2 separate regions of the Homo sapiens genome follow, and region 2 is reported to be linked to region 1. Evidence: microRNA targets listed by miRTarBase, many of them from high-throughput screens and not tested one by one. Region 1 holds a microRNA gene; the other region holds the end of a gene's coding sequence. Distances are from middle to middle.

What was found. The annotated mature microRNA hsa-miR-4733-5p reads AAUCCCAAUGCUAGACCCGGUG and lies in region 1 at 2,124-2,145, shown strand. An mRNA with a match to its seed (bases 2 to 7 or 8) in the 3' UTR can be bound and repressed. Matches are read on the target gene's strand: a 7mer-m8 pairs with bases 2 to 8, a 7mer-A1 pairs with bases 2 to 7 and ends in A, and an 8mer does both.
Region 2: the mRNA of HSF5 is a reported target of hsa-miR-4733-5p. Seed matches in the 3' UTR shown: 7mer-m8 at 3,033-3,039 and 7mer-A1 at 2,003-2,009.

The regions. Positions count from the first base shown.
Region 1 is chr17:31,093,243-31,096,539 of GRCh38, reverse strand. It overlaps MIR4733 (microRNA 4733), which reads left to right and starts at 2,115; the gene lies at 2,115-2,190. NF1 (neurofibromin 1) reads right to left here and starts at 1,563. Exons shown (of 58, transcript NM_001042492.3): 1 at 1,171-1,563. The coding sequence starts at 1,230. MIR4733HG (MIR4733 host gene) reads left to right here and starts at 1,050. Exons shown (of 4, transcript NR_186435.1): 1 at 1,050-1,313; 2 at 3,049-3,167. RefSeq lists silencers at 1,159-1,208, 1,249-1,318, cis regulatory regions at 1,174-1,484, 1,711-1,950, an enhancer at 1,553-1,570 and a promoter at 1,558-1,983.
Region 2 is chr17:58,419,248-58,422,544 of GRCh38, forward strand. It overlaps HSF5 (heat shock transcription factor 5), which reads right to left. Exons shown (of 6, transcript NM_001080439.3): 6 at 920-3,183. The coding sequence ends at 3,113. Among named protein-coding and RNA genes, the nearest start is that of RNF43, 3.4 kb to the left of the region's middle.

The DNA of each region.
Region 1 (3,297 bases):
CTGCAGAAAGCATCCCTTAAACCATCCCCAACTACCTACAGCAACACAAAGTTAAACCAATTTCCACTGACAAAAGGCTATGTGTGCATTTATTCTAATCAGCCCCAGGATTTATTGTGTGAAACTCAGGCGATAAAAAGTCACCTCCTCAAGCTACAAAACTTTTTTTTCATCCCAAATATTCTCAATGAAAGTTCTCTTGTCAACCAGGAGAGAGTCAAAAACAACCACAAACACTAGCAGAATGATCCGCTCCAGGACCACATCCCAGCTGGCTTTGCTCTGTTGTCGGTGGCTCTGAAGCAGTTTCTCACTTTCCTTTCACCCTTCTCCCCTTTACTCCCCAACATTCTCACTCGAGAATGCATCACATCCTCAGACCGCTGGCAAAAAAAAAAGGGGGGGGGGAAGAGACTGCAATTATCAAGGAAGGGGAAGATATTTCAGAACCACGGTTTCCACTGCAAACGGCAATAAAAAAAAAAGGCAGTCTGTGTCATCAGGATATGGGGGACGACGTTGTAGGGCATCACAAAGATGTGCAGTGAGTGTGCACTTGAAGCTCTCGGGGCAGGATGAGACGATGGAGCAGAAAGTAAGAAAACCTGTGCCTTCCTTGCTTTCTTCTGCTCTTCCCCCTCCAGGAGAGGAAGCTGAAGAAACTGGGGGAGGGGCGGAATGTTATCGTTCTCCTATTGAGGGTATATAAGACAGGCCTTAGGGTTCGCTCGTCCCCAGTTAGGAGGGTCACGGAGGGAAGAGGAAGAGAGAACCCCTAAACGTTACCCACCTCTGCTCAAAAACAAAAGTAAGGGGGTAATTATTAAATCCAGATGGCGCGCCCCTAAAGGCGCCCCCAGGTCACTCATCCCCATTTCCAAGCGGAAGGGCTGGGATAAAGGGGATGGAGGGTCGGAGGCTGGTCAGGGACAAGGCCCCACCCCCCGACTTAGGAGGGAAAGGGTGCCCAAGCTCCCAGCTGTCCCCTCCTACCCCTCACCTCCCGCCTTGGCCACCCCCACTTATCCCCCCTTCCCTTCTCTTCCCTTCCCTTCCTTTCCTCCAGAGCCTGAGGCAGCCGCGGGGGAGGCGGCCGCTCCTACCTCCCCTCACCTACTCTGTCCCCACCCCCACTCCGCTCCCACCTCCCGCCCGCCACGGGCCGGTTACCTGCTCGTCGAAGCGGCTGACCACGGCCTGGACCCATTCCACCGGCCTGTGCGCGGCCATGTCCTCCCCGCGGCCGGGGGGCGGCGGAGGGAAGGGTGGGCCGGCGCCCTGGGCCGGGAAGAGGGCGGGGAGCGGAGGCTGAGGTGAGGGAAGAGGCAAGGAGAGGGTCTGTGGAGTGCAGGCTCCCAGTGTTCCCACGGGGGTGGGGATGGGGGGTCAGCGCCGAGCGGGAGGGGGAGAGGGAAAGGGGGCGTTGGCAAGGAGGCTGGGGGGAGGGGGATAGGGGAAGGGGACCCGGGGAGGGGAGGGGGCCTCTTGGTCGCTCTCCCCACTAGCGCCGTCTCCCCACAGCCATCACAGTCCGAGACGCCGCCATGACACCCCACCGGAAGTGGGATCCTTTCCACGGCCCGGGGAGAGGGAGCGCGAGCGAGCTAGAGATTGAGAGCGCGGCTGGGAAAGGGGAGGGGGAAGCGAGAGGGAAGGCGGCCTGCCGCGCATGCGCCCGCGCCGGCCGGTTTCATTAATGAAAAAGCGAGTCCTCCTGGAGGTGACGTCATCTAACTCCTCTGGGCCGTCTGGCGAGCGTCCCTCACCGCCGTGGGGCTCACCTAGACTGGCGCTGGGCTCAGCTGGCGAGTGCCAGAGCTGACCCGGGAGCATCCACTCCCATCCCCACCGCCCCCTACAGCTGTCCCCTCCCCCGCCGGCCTCCGGGTTTGGATTGCTCCCGGAGTTGGAAGTTAGGGCGCCCTGGGGCTAGCCTTTCTCCCAGCGCGCGGATCTCTGCCGCTAATCTCCTGGGGAGGCTGTGCTCTCAGCTTAAGCTCTCAGAAAAAATAAGGTACACGACCTCCGATTTTCAGGTTCTTCGTAGCTTGGTAGACTGCTGAGAAACAAAAAAGGAAGGCCAAAGAGAGATTCCGTGATTTTTTTTTTTTAGAGGTCGCTTAAATCCCAATGCTAGACCCGGTGGCAATCAAGGTCTAGCCACCAGGTCTAGCATTGGGATTTAAGCCCAGCTTTCCTCTGCAAAACTCATAGCCATCCAAGTTAATATAACTATTGCACAGTTGATGAGAGATTCAAGTTTCACCACCCTCAAAACACCTTTAAGGCCTTGCATTCATTATTAATTCAATATATTCATCGTCTTATTTAAATCCTTGAACAAACCTTTTCAATACATATCATTAACTTCATGAACTGATGAATACGTCACGTCCCCACCCCCGTGGGAACGCTGGGAGCCTGCACTCCTCCCTCAGACCTTTGATTTGCCCAAGGTCTGAGTTGACAGGTGGCAAAGTCAGGATGTAAACCAACGTGGTTTAACTCCTAGAACAATAGAGGTAGACTATGGGTCTCCTAAAACAAAGTCCTTCCCTATACCTCCAATACCAGAGTTGAAAGGATTTCATGTGTAATTGGGTTGTGCCAGTTTTCCAGGAAGAGGATTACATCCAAAACAACGGATAATCTATGTCTGACATTGGACTTTGGAATGACTAATTTTTTTTTTTTTTTTTTAAGACAGAGTCTCACCCTGTCACCCAGGCTGGAGTGCAGAGGCGCGATCTCGGCTCACTGCAACCTCCGCCTCCCGGTTGAAGTGATTCTTCTGCCTCAGCCTCCCGAGTAGCTGGGACTACAGGCATGCGCCACCACAGCCGGCTAATTTTTGTATTTTTAGTAGAGACGGTGTTTCACCATATTGGCCAGGCTGGTCTTGAACTCCTGACCTCATGATCCGCCCACCTCAGCCTCCCAAAGTACTGGGATTACAGGTGTGAGCCACCGCACCTGGCCTGGAATGAGTAATTTTAAAATTTGTCTTCCTCGATACATTTTACCTAGGCAAATGTTTTTGTTTTTCAGAGACAAGGTCTGACTCTGTGCAGTGGAGTGCAGTGGCTCAATCATAGCTCACTCCAGCCTCAGACTCCTGGGCCGAAGTGATCCTCCCACCTCAAGCTCCTGAATAGCTGGGACTACAGGTGAGTGTCACCCTGCTTTGGCTAATTTTTTTTTTTTTTTTTTTTTTGGTAGAGACACAGTCTTGCTATGTTGCCCAGGCTGGTCTGGAACTCCTGGCCTCAAGTGATCCCCCTGCCTTGGCCTCCCAAA
Region 2 (3,297 bases), 27 Mb from region 1:
CCCGCCTCGGTCTCCCAAAGTGCTGGGATTACAGGCGTGAGCCACTGCGCCTGGCCAACACCCTGCAAATTTAAAAAAAATTTTTGTTGGGCCAGGCGTGGTGACTCACGCCTATAATCCCAGCACTTTGGTTGACCAAGGTGGGTGGATCACGAGGTCGGGAATTTGAGACCAGCCTGACCAACATAGTTTAATTTAACATAGTTAAACTAAAAAATAACCTACAAATGGGCTTTGCCTCATCTATTCCTGCTTAAAACGTGCAAAGGAATGAAAAGACCTAGCCCTAGTAATTAATACACACACTTAATTGACAGAAAGAAGACAGTTACAAATGTGGTTGCCCTCTCTTGAGGAAACTCTGAGATTTGGAAATGATGATGATATGCATCATGAACCTGGAGACTTGGAGAAACTCAAGATCAAACCAAACAGCTCTATGTAGCTTAGTTCACTGTTTTAGATCACCAGAATTGCAAGAGCAATTATTCTTCAGCTTCAAAGTTTTGGAGTTACCCTCTAGGGTTGATATACTACTACATTTTCCTAGAGATGTCATAAAGATGCCATCACTATTGTAATGAAATGCCTAAGTCTCAATGACATCTACTAGCTAGTCTTATACATGAGATAGATCATCCTTCAGGATCTACTTTCACCTCTGGATTGATTAAATTTATCAAAGATCATTCATCCTTTTCCAAAAATGTAGGTTTCTGTAAAACATGTCTAAGAATTGTCCTTATCCCTAACGGCATTTAAAAAATTCCATTGCTATTCAAGTACAAATGAAAAAAAACTTTTAAAATTCAGATTATTTGAAAAATAAAGTAAATCTCATTTGAATTATACTATTAACTGTCATAATTATTGAATTTTCTATTAATCACCAAACAGTAAGAACAAGCAAGACAACAAGTCTAGTTGGAACACTCACTTTATTGTTGACTGATTGAAATTTATCAGTGCTTAAGGTGCTGAAATACTGAGGTACTAGTCAGGAACCTTGTTAGTTGACTAGTTGTGTCAGACCCTACTGGCTAATTCACAGGAAGACTTTATTATACCTCTTGCCATTTTGCCCAAGTCATTAATGACAGCTTTAGTTGATAGATACAAGGCGTGTAAGGATAGCAGGAGATCCAGCTCCTTGGTCTGCTGTATTCATATATAAAAATGTTTGGAAAGCTGATTAAGGCATTTCATTAATTAAGCCTTAAAACAACTGAAACCAAATCTATGCCAAGGTTCCTGCTTGACATGTGTTCCTCAAAAGATATTATCTCAACATCTATAAAGCTAAGAAAGCCATATTTAGGGGAAAATCTACACAGTATATTAGCTCTTCAACATGACAGAGAAAAAGCAAAGTTCCTTCATTTGGAAATTGGGTCTCCTCTTCACATACTCTGACAAAATATTATATAGTCTGGCCAAAAGATATAGGTGTCTTGATAATTTGCTCTTTTAAACCTTGCTAATAAAGATAAATAAATGCCCATCACATAGACATTAACTAGTCTAATCAGAGGGACCACACAGGTCGCTTTTCAGAACCTACTTTAATATCTAAACAGAGTCACTGCAGATCAATACAGAGCTCACCCTTTTCCAGAAAAGTAGATCTCTGTAATATTTCTAGGGTTTGACATCATTGGGAAGGCACAATGCAGTATAAGAAATGAACTGTTACATCCACAACGGCTAGCATAGTACTATGTCATATCACCAAGTGCCTTTTTAATTAGTTTCATATTCCTAGGCTTTCCTTTCGTTTCTGCAGTGCTTAATAGGAGAACTGAAACAGAATCCAATAAGAAAGTTTTGGTCAATTGAAAGACTTTAAATCAGAAAGTTTCTTGCTGTCACTGGATAAGCAAGTAAGGGATTAACCACAGAAACTGGACATCCAAGACATCCTTCTCTCCTAAAACACAGTCCCACAATCCTACTGCACAAATCTAGAATCCTGTAACAGGGATAAGAAAAAAATGTTACCATCTATCCCATTATCCAAAATTCTCTCAGAAGCTTAAACCAGATTGAAACCATTCTTTAAAAATCAGAGGCATAGCTTCTACTAAATGGCTGCTAATCAGTTTTTTCCCAAATTTGCACACAATACCTTATATAGATGAGAATTTATACTTATTGAATGTAAAAATCTAAAATAAGAAAATAGTATATTAAATCTCTTAATGTTTTTGTTCACACATTGTACATTTTCCTTTCAAAATAAAAATACTACACATGCATCCTTTATCCTTCTATCCTGCAATAATAAAAATATAAAACTTTAAAACCTTTAAATCTATCAGCATTTATAAATACAATTATATTAAACAAGTTAAATACTTTCTTTAAAGACATTTAAATAAGTGATATATTAATAAAATCTTTTTACCATTTATGATAATGTATCATTAAAATTAAAGAAAGATATGAAAATAGAAGAATGCTTCCATTAATATAAAAGAATCAGGGGCTGTTAAGTGTGATAGATGGTCCAAGTCCGGATGCCTTGCTCTTAAAACAGAATGCTGGGTTAGGAAGTAAGAGAATTTCCTGGTTAATCACTTAGAAAATTAGCTCTTCTCCAGAGTTTCTTCCCTGGAATTCCTGATGCATTTAGACCTGTGATGCTGGTGACCTCACATGCCTTTGTTTCTCACACAATCTCCTCTAAAAGGATCACACTGTGACTTGAATCAGAGAGACTGAATTCCCCACTAAAGTTGTGCTGACTACAGTTTGAGTGGCAAGACAACAAATCAGCACACACACAGATTATTCTTAGTACCATAGATGGAGCAGTTTTTAGATGCTCCTTGACTATAACAGAAGGTCAGAACTTTTCATTTAAAAGGGATCTGGGCAGCCAAAAAACGTGGCTGCTAGATGTTCAGTAGTTTGTCAAGGCAGATAATCTGAACTGAACCACTGTAGTACATACAAATTCCCAATTCTCAATTAACAAAATTCTCAATTAACGAAACAAAAAATACTTTTTTTTCCTTAACAGAACTGAAAAAATCCCAACAGTTTGTCATGTGCAAGGCTAGTCTGCCTCCAGCTACAGCTAGTGCACAATGTCACATTTGTCATCCATTCCTCACTCTTTTAATTCTTCCTCCTTTGGAAAGCGCTCCTGCTTGCAGGCCACGTCCACCAGCAGATGAAGATCTAGAAAGAAAGGATAGTTTACTCCCTCTTAGCCTCTCTGTAGAGTTCTATAGACAAGTTTTCAGACAAGCAGAACAAGTTGTCTATGTCTCACCTGTAGAACTGGCTCTAAAA